Linked DNA regions of Homo sapiens: region 1 is linked to region 2. Evidence: fine-mapped expression QTL. Tissue or cell type: aorta. Region 2 holds a variant in brackets; the other region holds the start of a gene. All regions are shown on one strand. Distances are from middle to middle.

Evidence for each region. PIP is the estimated chance that this variant, and not a neighbour inherited with it, causes the effect.
Region 1: ODAD1 starts here. The variant in region 2 is fine-mapped to the expression of ODAD1 in aorta (GTEx, PIP 0.90).

The regions. Positions count from the first base shown.
Region 1 is chr19:48,317,578-48,325,735 of GRCh38, reverse strand. ODAD1 (outer dynein arm docking complex subunit 1) reads left to right here and starts at 3,765. Exons shown (of 16, transcript NM_001364171.2): 1 at 3,765-4,058; 2 at 4,925-4,964; 3 at 5,345-5,437; 4 at 6,924-7,023; 5 at 7,160-7,349. The coding sequence starts at 5,368. It overlaps EMP3 (epithelial membrane protein 3 (MAM blood group)), which reads right to left and starts at 184. Exons shown (of 5, transcript NM_001425.3): 1 at 126-184. It overlaps LOC124904735 (a long non-coding RNA gene), which reads right to left and starts at 4,268. Exons shown (of 2, transcript XR_007067284.1): 1 at 3,759-4,268; 2 at 2,214-2,946. RefSeq lists enhancers at 311-360, 3,261-3,320, 3,331-3,390, 3,610-3,904, 3,911-4,150 and 1 more and silencers at 938-1,169, 3,501-3,790, 4,261-4,380.
Region 2 is chr19:48,286,433-48,294,610 of GRCh38, reverse strand. ZNF114 (zinc finger protein 114) reads right to left here. Exons shown (of 6, transcript NM_153608.4): 6 at 7,003-8,178. The coding sequence ends at 7,733. Among named protein-coding and RNA genes, the nearest start is that of ZNF114-AS1, 19 kb to the right of the region's middle. RefSeq lists enhancers at 2,589-3,237, 3,355-3,404, 3,425-3,474. The variant C/G (reference allele first, on the strand shown) is at 3,694.

The DNA.
Region 1 (8,158 bases), 31 kb before region 2:
ATTAAATTAAAAGGATTTCCAAGAGTCAGGGACGTCTCTCCCAGCCTGGGGGTGTCCTTCCCAAACTGCTACATTCCCAAGTAAATTAAGAAGTCCCAGCCCTGAATAACGGACTGGAAACTTACCGAGAGCCGCGAAAAAAGTCAGAGCTGGAGTCGGAGTCTTGTCCCTCGCTCGGGCCTCCGTGCCCCGCCCTTCTCCTCCCTCCTTTCACCCTCCCGAGGCCCCCGCCTCTCTCACCGCCTTCCTCCCTCCCTTGCTCTCCCCTCCAATCCAGAACCCTTTCTCTCTCGCTCGCTCTCCTTCTGCGTCTCTTCTCTCCCTCCTGCCCTCACTGTCTGGGCCTCCTTCTCTCTTGCTCCCGTTTCTCTTTCTCTCCTCCTCTCAATATATACTGACCCTTTTATAAACCCACCCTCACCGCACCCAGCTGAGGTCGGCTGCCAGTGGGAGGGCCCAGGCACTCCGGTTCCTCTTTCTTTGGGCCCCCACCCAATCCCTCCAGACAGACATCATCTGGGGCTCCCTCCCAGGGTTGAGATGAGAAACTCTTGGAATGGGGTTCTTGGGGGGGGCAAGCGTCAGGGGTGGGAGGGCCCGATTCTCAGGACCCTTGAGTTTTGAGGTCTTGCCCTGGGGCCGGATGTCTGCTTTCCCTGATGGAGCTTGGAGCTGGATAGGAGTCTGGGAAAAGAGGCCAGATTTCTGTGGCATGGACTTGAGATTGGGCTGGTGAAGTTGGCCCCGTGGTGGGGGGTCAGAGGATGGGAGATGAAATTTGTGAAACTCGGCAGGGCGTTGTGGCTCACGCCTGTAATCCCAGCACTTTGGGAGGCCGAGACGGGCAGATCATCTGAGGTCAGGAGTTCGAGACCAGCCTGGCCAACATGGTGGAAACCCGTCTCTATCAAAAATACAAAAATTAGCCGGGCGTGGTGGCGGGCGACTGTAATCCCAGCTACTTGGGAGGCTGAGCCATGAGAATCGCTTGAACGCGAGAGGTGGAGGCTGCAGTGAGTTGAGTTTGCACCACTGCCTTCCAACCTGGGGGACAAAGTGAGATTCTGTCGCAAAAAAAAAACAAAACAAAACAAAAAACAAACAAACAAAAAAAAAAACCTTGTGAAACTCTGGAAGCGGGGAGGAAGCGGAAGCTAAGAATCCCAGCGCCATCATTTCCTGGTTCAGTGACCTTGAGCCAATTATTTCACCCACCTGGGCTCCAGTATCTTAGTCTATGTTGAGAGTATAATAATGCTGACAAAATACTAATACTGATAATAATAATTCTGATACTTATGCTGAATGAATAAGGTAATACTGGCACACTCACACACCTAACCTGTTCCTTCCTTCATCAAACATTTATTGAACATGTACTCTGATCTGGGAGTTAATAATGAAAACAGACATGAGCCCTGCTGGTATTATGGAGCTTGTATTCTAGTAGAGGAAGACAGACAAGAGAAAACATCAATGATGAAGATAAATCTCAGATAAGGATAAGTGACTTGAAAAATAAATACAATAGGCTGGACGTGGTGGCTCATGCCTGTAATCTCAGCACTTTGGGAGGCCAAGGCTGGAGGATCACCTGAGGTCGAGAGTTCAAGACCAGCCTGGCCAACATGGTGAAACCCTGTCTCTACTAAAAATACAAAAATTAGCCAGGCATGGTAGTGGGCGCCTGTAACCCAGCTACTCAGGAGGCTGAGACAGGAGAATTGCTTGAACCCGGGAGGCGGAGGTTGCAGTAAGCTGAAATCACGCTACTGCACTCCATCCTGGGTGACAGAGCAAGACTCCATCTTAAAGAAAAAAAAAAATAAAAGAAGAAAAGAAAAATAAATACAATAATAAATCAAACAGAGTGATGGAGATAATGACAGAGTGCAGGGAAGACTACTTGAAACAGGAAAATCAGGGAAGGCCTCTTGGAGGAGGTAACATTTGAGCTGAAGACAGGAGTCATTTGAACGCTGGGGTTGGGGAGTGGTGGGGGGGCGTCGGGGGGAGAGGAAGTGCAAAAGCTCTTAAAGCTTTTGAGAACAAGCTCAGGTTGTTTAGGGAGCAGACAGAAGGGCCAGTGTGGCTGGAGCACAGGGAGACAGAGGGAGTGGTGAGAAGGGAAATCAAAGGGTGCCCTTGAAGACTAGGGGAGGGGCTTGGATTTCATTCTAAGTGCAGTGGAAAGCCATTAGGTTTTAACAGAGTGTAGTACCAAAGATTTTTATTTTTTTTTTGAGATGGAGTCTTGCTCTGTCATCCAGGCTGGAGTGCAGTGGCATGATCTCAGCTCACTGCAACCTCCACCTCCCGGTTCAAGCGATTCTCCTGCCTCAGCCTCCTGAGTAGCTGGGATTACAGGTGCCCGCCACCACGCCCAGCCAATTTTTGTATTTTTAGTAGAGACGGGGGTTTCTCCATGTTGGCCAGGCTGGCCTCGAACTCCTGACCTCCAGTGATCTGCCTGCCTTGGCCTCCCAAAATGATGGGATTACAGGCGTAAGACACTGTGCCTGGCCCCAAAGGTTTACTGTTAACTATTATTATTAATTTTGGGGATATTAAATTAGGGTCGGGGTGATGACTACTATGTACACGAGTCTCTTGGGAGGGGACCAGGTGCCCAGAACTCTGATAAATTGAGAGCAGGGGAATTCAAATCCTGGATCCAGGGAAGGGAACTGGATGATGGGATGTCTGGGTATCTGATGGGCCAGAGCTGGGTTTGGGATAGCTGTTGGTGATTCGGGCTCCCTGAGGGGGTGAGGGATGGACAGTTCAGTGCTTGGCTGGGTACCCCAAGACCTGGAAGCTGGAATACCAGTATAGCACAGACTCTAGAGCCACACTGGTTGGACTCAAAATCCAAGCTGTTTTACTCAATGGCTGTGTAATTTTTGGCAAGTTACTAATAACTTCTCTATGCCTCAGTCTCTTCATCTGAAAAATAGAGATAATAGTAAATACATTATAGGGCAGTTCTTAGGGTAGTGCTAGTCATATCAGGCATTGGGGCTCTGAGTGGAGTCAGTACTGGGGGACCCTGATTCAGGATCTCTAGGAGTTGGGGAAGGGGCAAATTCTTGGGTCCATTGGGTCTCAAGGCTAAAGTTGGGAATCCAAAATGAGGGTCCCTGGGGGAGAATAAGTAGTCTCAAACTTAAGTGCCTGAGAGACAGAAACTGGGGTCCGCACTCAGATCCCTAAGGAAGTTGCAAAGTCTGGGTCACTGAAGGAAAAATTAGGGGCTGGGGAGACATACGTTCCTCTTGGGGAGCAGGAAAAGAGGGCTCCACTTTCTTGAGAGGACTAGGGGGAGCCAGGGGCTAGGAAGATGGAAACTTGAGCCGGGGAGGTGAAAAACACGAGTCTAGGACTCAGAATCAAGTTCCCTGAGTGGGATCGGCGCCAGGCTTGGGTACCCTGGGGATATTAGGGGGGTCCCCGCACTATGGCTATGTAGAAGGGGAAGAATCAAAGGATCTGAGGGTGGCGGCGGGATCTCCCCATCCTGGGCCTCCGAGATTATGAGCTGAGCTGAGCGTACGCAGGCCGCTTCCTCCCACAGGAAACCGCAGGCTTCGGGCACACCCAGCCTGCAGGGAGAGGCGCCCACTGCCCGCCCGCCCGGGGAGGCCCACGTGGGCAGCAGCCGCCGCCGCGGAGGGGGCGTGCCTTACAGAGCGAGTGGGTGTAACCAGAGGGGGCGTGGCCAGAAACCGGGGGGCGGTATGGAGTGCCCGAGGTCTCACCCACTTCCGCCCTCCAGCGCGCGGACGTGGTAGGCGGCCAAGCGTTTTTGGCTGCTTCCCGGGAAGCCGTTGGTCGCGCTTGCGTAGTGAACCGCTGAGGCTGTGTTGAGCGCTCCTTCTCCGCGCAACTCCCGGCTTCGACACCGCCTTCCTTCCTATGAATCCTTAATTTAACGTGGTCACAGTCAGCTTAAGACCGGCACCTCTCGGGCTCCGTCTTGTAGGACCTCGGCCTGGCTTCGAGGGCTTCCATACAGGTCACCGCAGGCTCTTTCAACTCCCGCCGCTTCCAGGCCCGCGGTACTAGTGAGACCTCAGCCTCGACCTCCCCAGGACCATTTCGACCTCCCGCAGGCCTTCAAGGCCTGAGCGCCTCCCGATTAGCCCGCCCTTCACCGCCCTTCCACCGGGCCCCTCGTAAGGCCTTCCAAACGCGACCCTCGAAGCCCGCCCCTTACGGGGAAGCCCCTCCGCTCGCTGTCTGCGAAGCCCCGTCCTGTACTGGTGTCCGTGCCCCTCCCCTCGCCGGCCCCGAAGCCCCGCCCCTCGAAGTTCTTCCCACTCACTCTCCTCACAGGTCTCAGCCCCGCCCATCACAGCTCCCTACGGCACGCCCCTCTCAGGCCTCACAGCCGTGCACCTCTCAGGGCTCCGCAGCACCGCTCCACAGGCCCTCCCGGCTCCGCCCCTTTCAGGACCTCGCCGCCCATCAGTTTTGTTTGTTTGTTTGTTTGTTTTTTGAGACGGAGTCTCGCTCTGTCGCCCAGGCTGGAGTGCAGTGGCGGGATCTCGGCTCACTGCAACCTCCGCCTCCCGGGTTCAAGCGATTCTCCTGCCCCAGCCTCCTGAGTAGCTGGGATTACAGGCACGAGCCGCCATGTCCGGCTAATTTTTTGTACTTTTAGTAGAGACGGGGTTTCACCATGTTGGCCAGGTTGGTCTCGAACTCGTGACCTCAAGTGATGCGCCCGCCTCGGCCTCCCAAAATGCTGGGATTGCAGGCGTGAGCCACCGCGCCTGGCCTTGCCCATCAGTTCTCAGTCCGTGGGAACCCTGCAGGTCTACGCCTCGCATCCTTCTCCGCCCCTCCTCCCATAGTTTCTCCCGCGGCCTCAGTCCCTCCCTGGCCGCTGTCCTCAGTCCTCATTGGTCCCTTATCTCCCCAGTAACCAGACCACAACACTGAACTTGGAGCACCAAGAACAGGTCAGGCCCGTCGGCAGGTAGGGCCCAGGACTCCCCCGACCCTGCCCAACCCCCACTACAGCAGGCCGGGGTTTCCCCCTCTCCTGCGACCAAACAGCCTGGCCTCAGATATCCTGAGAGCCCAGGAGGCCTGTCCCCTGCCAAACCCGCGCCAGAATCGGAGCCTAGACGCAAGACCCAGAGTGTGAGAGGTGGGAGGGCTGGAGAGGTGTGGGAGAGGCCTGAGAGAGGTCCCCCTCCAACCCCTCTTGGAGGAATGAGGCCAGCGTGGTTCTAGGGTCACCCCCTTTCAATTCCCAGTCCCTCGCAGTTCATTGTCCACCCTCTCTGGGCCCTGGCCCGCCTGCTGTCTGAAGGGTCTTATATGTCCATCCCTACAGGAGCCCCACCCTGTTTGGCCAGGATGCCTTTGGGACGCTTGGCAGGGAGCGCCCGCTCCGAGGAGGGAAGCGAGGCATTTCTGGAGGGAATGGGTAATTCATTCATTCTTTATATCATTCACCCATTCTTTTCCAGCCCCCAGCTTTCCCAAGTTCCAGGTCCTGTAGGGAGGGAGGGAGAGTGTCTGTCCAGGAGCGCCCTCTGGTGGGAACAGACATGCGCCCTAAGGGAGGCGGGGCGGGCACCACGGTGGGTGGGCCAAGCCTGGGCAGTGGGGCAGGCTGGAGACTTCAGGCAGCAGAAGTTTGAGTGGGGCCCAGAACTCCCTGTAGGAATTGCCAAGGGGAGAAGGAAGGAAGGGTGTTTCTACAGAGATGACAGAATGTGGCTAGAGTAGGCTTTCTCAACCTTGGTACTGTTGACTCTTGGGGTGGGATAATTCTTTGTTGTGGGGGCAGTCCTGTGTGTCGTAGGATGCCAAGCAGTGTCCATGGCTTCTACTCACTGGATACCAGTAGCCCCCTCCCTTCTCCACAAGTCATGACAATGACAAATGTCTCTAGGCTGAGCATGCTGGCTCATGCCTGTAATCCCAGCACTTTGGGAAGCTGAGGAAGGAGGATCACTTGAGCCCAGGAGTTCAAGACCAGCCTGAGCAACACAGTGAGACCTCATCTCTACAAAAATAAAATAAAATTAGCCAGGTGTGATGGCGTGCACCCATAATCCCAGCTACTCGGGAGGCTGAGGTGGGCGGATCACTTGAGCCTGCGAGGTGGAGGCTGCAGTGAGCTGAGATTGTGCCACTGCGCTAGAGCCTGGGGGACAGAGCGAGACCCTGTCTAGAAAAAAATAAGTCTCCAGACATTGCCAAATGTTTTTGGAAGGCAGAATCACCCGCTGATTGAAAACTACTGGGCCTTTGGAGATGGGGAGCATACGGGCAAGACTGGAGAGGTGGGTAAGGTCAGGTCACTTGGGGTCTGGGATCCCAGGCTGAGGTGCTGAGACTTTGTCCTGCAGGTACTGGGGCATCATGGGAGGCCTATGAGGGGTAGGGTCTGCTGTGGGTGGGGTAGGGTTGGCTGTGGGTGTAGAGAGACCCTCTGGGACTGTGCAGGAAGGCTGGAAGTTGAGAGAAAGGTTGGGGTGATGGTCCAGGTAGGAGAGGATGAGGCTGAGCCCAGGGGATGGGTTGAGAGAGGGAGGAGGCAAGAGGATGGGGCTGAGGGCTGCTGATGGTGGGGCAGAAAAGGAGGGAGGGAGCAAGAGCCTTCCCAATTCCAGGTGGTGTGCCCAGGTCCCAGAAGACCCAGAGGCCTTCCAGAAGTGCCCTCTGGTGGGATGGGAGTGGGTTTTAGGGGAAAAAAACCCTGAGTTCAGTTTTGGGTATGAAGGGATGAGGAAGCTCGAGGGATCCCGGAACTGAGGTGCATTCCTAGAGGGGTGTTGGGGGCTGGATCTGCAGTTCAGTTGCAGTTTGTGAGACCCCAAAGGGAGCAGAATTCCTAGGTCCTGGGTTGGGAGGAGCTGGTGGCCAGGATCCCTGCTGAGTCCCTTGGCTGGCCCTGTTCTCAGTGGATTGGGAGCTGAGTAGGCTGCAGCGACAATGCAAAGTGATGGAAGGGGAGAGGCGGGCCTACAGCAAGGAAGTCCACCAGCGCATCAACAAGCAACTGTGAGCTGGGCGCCTGGGCCCTGAGCTGGGGAGGAGGGGGTCAGAGGGGCTGAAGACTGGACTCCTGGGTCCTGCCTTTAGTGATGCTGAGTTCTGCCCCCTTACTGGCCCCTCTTCCACCTCCCTGCCTGGGTAGTGAGGAGATCCGGCGCTTGGAGGAGGTACGGGGCGATCTCCAGGTGCAGATCAGCGCAGCCCAGAACCAGGTCAAGCGGCTTCGGGACAGTCAGCGGCTGGAGAACATGGACCGCCTGCTGAAGGGCCGGGCCCAGGTGCAGGCGGAGATCGAGGAGCTGCAGGAGCAGACCAGGGCCCTGGACAAGCAGGTGGGGTTTGAGAGGTGGTTCTACGGATCCTGCTTACGGGCAAGTGTTGTAACCTCCCTGAGCCTTAGCTTCCTCATGTGAAATTGGGGCTATTAGGCCGGGCACAGTGGCTCATGCCTGTAATCCCAGCACATTGGGAGGCTGAGGCGGGCAGATCACTTGAGGTCAGGAGTTCAAGACCAGCCTGGCCAACGTGGTGAAACCCCATCTCTACAAAAAATACAAAAATTAGCCAGGCATGGTGGCACATGCCTGTAATCCCAGCTACTCGAGAGGCTGAAGCAGGAGAATAGTTTTTCTTTTGTTTTGTTTTTGAGACGGAGTCTTGCTCTGTCGCCCAGGCTGGAGTGCATTGGCACAATCTCGGCTCACTGCAAGCTTCGCCTCCCAGGTTCATGCTATTCTCCTGCCTCAGCTTCCCGAGTAGCTGGGACTACAGGTGCCCACCACCAGGCCTGGCTACTTTTTTTGTATTTTTAGTAGAGACAGGATTTTACTGTGTTAGCCAAGATGGTCTTGATCTCCTGACCTTGTGATCCGCCCACCTCGGCCTCCCAAAGTGCTGAGATTACAGGCGTGAGCCACTGTGCTCGGCCAGGAGAATCGTTTAAACCCGGGGGGCAGAGGTTTCAGTGAGCCAAGATCGCGCCGCTGCACTCCAGCCTGGTTGACAGAGCAAGACTCTGTCTCAAAAAAAAAAAAAAATCGGGGCTATTGAAAGCATCCATCTGGTAGAGTTGTGTTCAGTGGAAACATAGATGTTTGCTGCTTTAGCACAGTCCCAGGCATTCAAAAACAGGACTGGTGTG
Region 2 (8,178 bases):
GCAAGTAGTAAATGCTCAGAACTACATGTGACTATTAGCAGGACAGCGATAAAGATGGAAAGGAGTGTAGTGTTTTCTTTCTATTTATTTATTTATTTATTTATTTTTGAGACGGAGTCTCGCTCTGTCGCCCAGGCTGGAGTGCAGTGGCACAATCTCAGCTCACTGCAATCTCCGCCTCCTGGGTTCAAGCAGTTCTCCTGCCTCAGCCTCCCAAGTAGCTGGGATTACAGGCACCTGCCACCATGCCTGGCTAATTTTTTTTTTTTGTATTTGAGATGGGGGTTTCACCGTGTTGGCCAGGCTGGTCTCGAACCCCTGACCTCAAGTGTGCTCCTACCTCGACCTCCCAAAGTGCTGGGAATACAGGCGTGAGCCACTGAGTCTGGCCTGTGTTCAGCAATATTTGAGCCATTTTTCCTTACAGAAAGAGAAATACTTATTTTTGTGTTTTAAATAAAACTGGTGTAGGAAAGTTAAAAAAAAAAAAAAAGAACTCTATTTCTCCCCTTACAGCTGCACAGGAGGGGACATCCACATATCTTTTCTCATTAATTTGATAAATATTTATTGAGCATGTACTATGTGCCATATATTGTACTAGGTTCTGGGGATGGAAGAGTAAAGGAGAAATTTGAAAATGGCATTTCAGGAGGGAGGTGGAAAGGCAGCTCCTCTGAGGCGTGGCTCCTGGCAGTGGAACTGCTATTCTTCCTCCCTGGGGGCCCAGGAAGTCTCATCTTGGTGTGGAGCTGAGTCGTGACCACCAGCCCTATCTCCCATTTCGGAGCGATTTCCTCCTCTTTCCTTCCAAAGATAGCAGAGTAAGCACAGCAGACCGAGCCTTCTGATTTGCTGCCCCTGCAAAGCGGCCTCATAGACCACCACAGTGCGATGGACTCAGGCTAACCACAGCTCTCTGTCACCTCAAGGGTCCTAGTCCTACAATGAGCAGGTTCACTTCCTCTACCTTCCCCTGGACTGGGGCTGGGCTCGCCACTTTTAGATGGTCAACCCTGCAGCACCCAGCGCAGAATACATCGAAGGCCACTTTAGAGACACCTGAGAATTCAACCTAGATTTTTGATTTTTTATTTTTTTGAGACAGGGTCTTGCTCTGTTGCCCAGGCTGGAGTGCAGTGGTGCAATCTTGGCTCACTCCAGCCTCCACCTCCCAGGTTCAAGTGATTCTCATGCCTCAGCCTCCTGAGCAGCTGGGACTACAGATGTGTGCCACCACGCCCGGCTAATTTTTGTATTTTTTGTAGAGATGGAGGTTTCACCATGTTGGCCAGGCTGGTCTCGAACTCCTGGCCTCCAGTGATCCTCCCGCCTTGGCCTCCCAAAGTGAAAAAGACATTTTAAAGTTTGACCTCTGGAATGCCTTATGCTACAGCCTAAGAGAACAGCAGGTGAGTGCAGCTCAATCTTATCAGCCAAAGTGGAGGAAGGATGAATTAAATTGTACTCAATAGCAGTGAAATTACGGGTATTTAATCATTTTCCTCCTCCAGGAGTGAGGCAGAAACAGGCACTGCCACATCCAGGCTGTGTGGTCTTGGGCCAGTGTCTTCAGCATCCTGAGCTGTTACTCATCCTGACATCAGAGCTGGCAGCGAATCCTGGAGGCAGCTTTGTGTGGTGGGGAAGGCTCACTGGGAGGTAGCGTGGGTGTAACCGGTTCCTCATCATAATCTCTGTCAAGTGAAAAAACATGGGGATAATCTAGAACAGTGGAAAACCCTATCCCAGACCCTTAGAGAGTCAGGAAACCATTTTAAGGTGACCTGACCAGCATTTAAAAATAGGAATAGGCCGGGCCTGGTGGCTCATGCCTGTAATCACAGCACCTTGGGGGGCTGAGGCAGGCGGATCACCTGAGGACAGGAGTTCGAGACCAGCCTGGCCAACATGGTGAAACCCCGTCTTTACTAAAAATGCAAAAATTAGCTGGGCATGATGGCGGGAGCCTGTAATCCCAGCTACTCAGGAGGCTGAGGGAGGCTGAGGCAGGAGGATTGCTTGAACCTGGGGGACAGAGGTTGCAGTGAGCCGAGATCATGCCTGGGTGATAGAGTGACACTCTGTCTCAAAAAAAAAAAAGGAATAGAGTGGAATATAAAGCATCGTGTAATACAGGGCCGTGTAATACAGGGTGGTATTTTTAAAACTAAAATTTTCTTTTTTTTGAGACGGAGTCTCGCCCTGTCACCCAGGCTGGAGTGCAGTGGCGCGATCTCGGCTCACTGTAACCTCTGCCTCCCGGGTTAAAGTAGTTCTTTGCCTCAGCCTCCCTAGTAGCTGGGATTACAGGTGCCCGCCACCATACCTAGCAAATTTTTTTTTTTTTTTTTTTTTAAGTAGAGATGGGGTTTCACCATCTTGGCCAGACTGGTCTGGGACTCCTGACCTGGTGATCCACCCACCTCGGCCTCCCAAAGTGCTGGGATTACAGGCATGAGCCACTGCAGCCGGCCTAAATTTTGTTTTTAATTGTACATATTTATAGGATGCGGCGTGATGTTTTGATACATATATAAATTGTGCAGTGATCAAATCAAGGTTATTAGCAAATCCATCATCCCAGATGCTTGCCATTTCTTTGCGGTGAAACATGCAAAATGTTCTAGCTATTTTGAAGTATACAATCCATTGTTGTTGGCTATAGAGGGTGGTATTCTTTTGTAAAAGTATGCTGATGCGGCCAGGCACGGTGGCTCATGCCTGCAATCCCAGCACTTTGGGAGGCCGAGGCGGGCAGATCACTTGAGGCCAGGAATTCGAGACCAGCCTGGCTAACATTGTAAAACCCCATCTCTACTAAAAATAAAAAATTAGCCAGGCGCGGTGACGGGCGCCTGTAATCTCAGCTACTCAGGAGGCTGAGGCAGGAGAATCGCTTGAACCCTGGAAGTGGAGTTTGCAGTGAGCCGAGATCGTGCCACTGCATTCCAACCTGGGCAACAGAGCAAGACCTTGTCTCAAAAAAAAAAAAAAAAAAATGCTGACGCAAAATGATTTCTTACTGTGCGTCAGAATTTTGGAAGCCACTGGTAGACAGTCCTTAGTTTCACACAATGATTTTCAGACAACTGCCCATTCGCCAATTCCAACCACCTCGGCCCACTGCCCAAATCCAACGTTTCTGGTCTCCGGGCGGCGCTGCCTTAGCAGGATCCGCCGCCAGGTGGCGCGCTCCCCCCGCCCGGAGTGGGTTTTGTTCCATCCCGGACTTAGATCTTCCAAGACGGCGATTTCCTTCTGGTCGGGTCTCTTCCCGAGGATCCGCTTTACTCGTACTAGAAACTCTGACCTCGAATGCAGTTCCAGAAGCAGAACCCTGTAGGGGGTTTCAGGCGGCCAAGAAGGGAAGTGGTTCTCCTAAGACCGTCCCGGCTTCAGTCCACGGCGCTCACTAAATGCCTCCCACGCCAGACGAGGTCCCCCGTCCCCGGAGCTCGCGTCCCAGAGGTGAGGACACACACGAACCCTCCTGCCCGAATTCGCGACCCCGTCAGTGCAGGGAGGCTCTGGCCTGGGGCTGAAGAGCCGAGTCTCTGGTGCCTGACAGCACGGGGTCGAGCCCCTCCCGGCCACCTGCTGGCTGTGTGATCTTGGGCATCGTGCTTGGCCTCGCTGTGCCTCAGTTCCCCCCACTGTAAAATGGTAGTGATAACAGCAGCCACTTCATAG[C/G]GTTGCAGGCGTTGCATGAGTTAATAGGTGCAAAGCGCTCAGAAGGGGGCCTGGCGTATGTTTGCCAAAACGATTGTTGAAAATTCTCAGTTTACATCTGTGAGAATTGAGGACCAGTTGGGGGTAGAGGGTGGGGAATCCCCAAAGTCGGCTAAGTTCAGCCTCAGCGACTGGAGGCGGGAGGGGTGTTCCCTCAGCTACAGATGTTTCCCCCCTCCCGCCCCGGCCCCCTCCACCCCCGGTTGAATCCAGGGATTCTGATTTCAGCCATGGTCCTTTTCCTCCGCACAGCGCTCCCTGGGGGTGGGAGTGGACCCAGGCCCCTTGGCAAGGTCTGGGACTGTCCTGGCATAGCAGCCTCCCCTCCTCCTCTTCATTCCTTCCAGGATGGGGAGGGCCATGAGTCACCCAGATTCTAGGATAAAGCAGCAGATTGCTGGGAAACGCAGGCAGCAGGGGTCCGGGAGAAAGGGCCAAGCTTGAGCCCCCTCAGCCACAGTGGGGGTCCCTGACCTGCAGGTCTTCCCCAAACACTGAAAGCTGAACTTAACAGTGCTGGGGCCATGCAGAATGCGCGCCTAGGAGGACCTCTGCTCTTACCAGTGGCGTTTCTCTTTTCTTTTCCTTTTTTTTTGGAGACGAAATCTCGCTCCGTCGCCCAGACGGGAGTGCAGTGGCGCAGTCTCAGCTCACTGCAACCGCTGCCTCCCTTGTTCAAGTGATTCTCCTGCCTCAGCCTCCCAAGTAGCTGGGATTACAGATGTCTGCACCATGCCTGGCTAAGTTTTGTATTTTTAGTAGAGATGGGGTTTCGCCATGTTGGCCAGGCTGGTCCCGAACTCCTGACCTCAAGTGATCCACCCACCCCGGCCTCCCAAAGTGCTGGGATTACAGGCATGAGCCACCGCGCCCGGCCTATTTTTTTTTTTTTTGAGACAGAGTCTCACTCTGTCTGTTGCCCAGGCTGGAGTGCAGTGGCACGATCTCGGCTCACTGCAACCTCCGCCTCTTGGGCTCAAATAATTCTCCTGCCTCAGCCTCCTGAGTAGCTGGGACTACAGGTGCATGCCACCATGCCTGACTAATTTTTGTATTTTTAGTAGAGACGGGGTTTCACCACATTGGCCAGGCTGGTCTTGAACCCTGACCTCAAGTGATCCACCTGCCTCGGCCTCCCAAAGTGCTGGGATTACAGGCGTGAGCCACCACGCCCGGCCAAGAATGACTTTCATAAAATGCTCATTGGGAGGGCTTTGCAAAATTGGTGTTAGCAGCATGTTTATAATCTCTAAAGTGAGATACAGATCCAGGGTCTCTGGAATGAATATAACTAAGAAAGAATGAATGCCACCTGCACCCTACCTGCTTAGCTTTTCTTTTCCTGAAAGAAGCAAGGCACAAAGAAATATTCTATGCCATGCCATCATACGCAGCATAAACATCATCGAAACTAGAAAACAGGGTATTTGGGGATTTCTGCATAGCTGCAAACATAAAGATGAGCGAGGGGGGCGAATGATACAAAATGAACCATGGCGGTTTCCTCTTGGGGCTGGAGATGTCGTCTGTGAGGCACAGACGTGAATTGCCTGGTGTTTAATGATGAGCTGTTTACGGGCTTGGATGGTGGGTATAAGGGTGATCACTTTATTAACTTTGAAATGTCGTGGTGGCAGGTGCCTGTAATCTCAGCTACTCAGGAGGCTGAGGCAGGAGAATCACTTGAACCTGGGAGGCAGAGGTTGCAGTAAGCGGAGATCACGCCACTGCACTCCAGCTTGGGCAACAAGAACAAAACTCCATCTCGAAAAAAAAAATGTATATGTACATTTTCATGCATTTTCAGGTAGTCATATTTCCCAACTTTTATTTTTTATTATTTTTATTTTTACTTTTTTTGAGATAAGTTTCACTCTTGTTGCCCAGGCTGGAGTGCAATGGCACAATCTCGGCTCACCGCAACCTCCGCCTCCCAGATGCAAGCAATTCTCCTGCCTCAGCCTCCTGAGTAGTTGGGATTACAGGCGTGAGCCACCACACCTGGCTAATTTTATATTTTTAGTAGAGATGGGGTTTCTCCATGTTGGTCAGGCTGGTCTCGAACTCCTCACCTCAGGCGATCCGCCCACCTTGGCCTCCCAAAGTGCTGGGGTGACAGGCATGAGCCAACATGCCCGGCCGTTTCCCAACTTTTAAAAGATTGAAAAGAGGCCGGGCACAGTGGCTTATGCCTGTAATCCCAGCACTTTGGGAGGCCAAGGCAGGCAGGTCACTTGAGGTCAGGAGTTTGAGACCAGCCTGGCCAGCGTGGTGAAATCTCGTCTCTACTAAAAATAGAAAAATTAGCTGGGCGTGGTGGTGGGTGTCTGTAATCCCAGCTACTCGGGAGGGTGAGGCAGGAGAATCACTTGAGCCCAGGAGGCAGAGGTTGCAGTAAGTCGAGATTGCCCCACTGCTCTCCAGCCTGGGTGACAGAGCAAGACTCTGTCTCAAAATAAATACATACATAAATAAAATAAAAATAAAAATAAGACATTAAATAGTGCTCATTGTGGAAAGTGAATCTATGTGCCCTTAGTAAAGAAGATGAGAAGAATGGAGGTGGCAGGGAAGTTGACAGAATAGGGCACATTAGACTGACAAAGTCATAACAAGTAACCCAAGTTGGTACCAGAAAGACCACATACTCTGACCATAATGCAGTTGAACAGTGACCAATAAGACAAAAATGGTATCATGGAGTATATGAATCCCAAGTCTAAATTGAATGAGGCTCAAAGAAGGCTTCACATTGAAAATGAGACCACGTGTATGTGAGTTATAATGAACCTGCTATATACCAACATTTATGTGGCAGAGCTGGGAGTGTGCAAAGAGGGATATCCTTCATCTTGTAGCATTTTTTTTTTTAGAAAGGAAAAACTGGAAAATCATGAACATTTACAGTGTTTCAGTCCTACTGTGCGCTCATTGTGCCTAAGTGAAAGGCTGGACCTGAAAGCTTTCTTTTTTTTTTTGAGACAGGGTGTCACTTTGTCACCCAGGGTGGAGTGCAGTGGTGCAAACACAGCTCACTGCTGCCTCAAGCTCCCAGGCTCAAGCGATCCTCCTGCCTCAGCTCCCCAGGTAGCTGGGACTACAGGCATGTGCTACCACTCCTGGTTAATTTTTGCATTTTTTTTTTTTTTTTTGTAGAGATGGGGTTTCTCCATGTTGCCCAGGCTGGTCTCAAACTCCTGGACTCAAGCAATCCCCCACCTTGGACTCCCAAAGTGCTAGGATTACAGGTGTGAGTCACTGCACCAGGCCTTGAAAGCTTTCTTATTTTTATTCCAGTTGTAGCCTCCCTTCAGGATGTGGATTCACATGCAACATGAGTGGTAAGTGTTTAAAGAGGTCTTTCCTACTTTTTTTTTTTTTTGAGACGGAGTCTCGCTCTTTCCCCCAGGCTGGAGTGCAGTGGCTCCATCTCGGCTCACTGCAAGCTCCACCTCCCAGGTTTACACCATTCTCCTACCTCAGCCTCCCAAGTAGCTGGGACTACAGGCACCTGCCACCACGCCTGGCTAATTTTTTTTGTATTTTTAGTAGAGACGGGGTATCACCGTGTTAGCCAGGATGGTCTTGATCTCCTGACCTCGTGATCCGCCCGCCTCGGCCTCCCAAAGTGCTGGGATTACAGGCATGAGCCACCGCGGCCGGCAGGTCTTTCCTACATTTTTTATTTCCGTAAGGAGTCTCTGCAGTGTGAGTTCTTGTATGAACCATGAATTTGAGACCACGCTGAAGGCTTTGTCATATTCCTTTTAGATTCGCAGTTTCTCTCCAGGGTGAGAACAAATGTCTACTCAAGATGAATGAAGATGAAAGGCTTTCTGTAGACTTTACCTTCACAGGGTTTTTTTTCACATTTCTGTAAGATACGAGAGTTCAGGGAAGATGTTCTCACTCATGCTAACCCCTTGAGCTCCCTTCCAATATGTCCTCCTCACATGTTTGGTACAGTCAGAAAATTAATGAAAAATTTTCCACCTTCCTTTCATTCACAGGGCTTCTCATCTTTGTGAGTCTTAAGATGTTTTTTAAGTCCTGACGACTTTGCAAAGTCTTTTCCACATGTCTTACATTTATAGGGTTTCTCTCCAGTGTGGCTCCTTATATGTGTATATTTTGAGGACTCCCGAATGACTTTCCCACATTCTTCACATTCGTAGGGCTTCTTCTGCACAACATGCTTTCTTAAATGTTTATTAAGGTGTAAGGAATATCTAAAGGCTTTCCCACATTTCCCACATTCATACGGTTTCTCTCCAGTGTGAATTTTCATATGTCTCATAAGGAATGACTGATAAAAAAAGGCTCTCCCACATTCGGGGCATTTATGGGTTTTCTCTCCAGTGCAATGACTCTTGTGTGAACCGGAATTTGGAGCGTTGGCAGAGGTTGCCCCAGTTTGACAATCCTTCTTGTTTGTCTCTGCGGTAT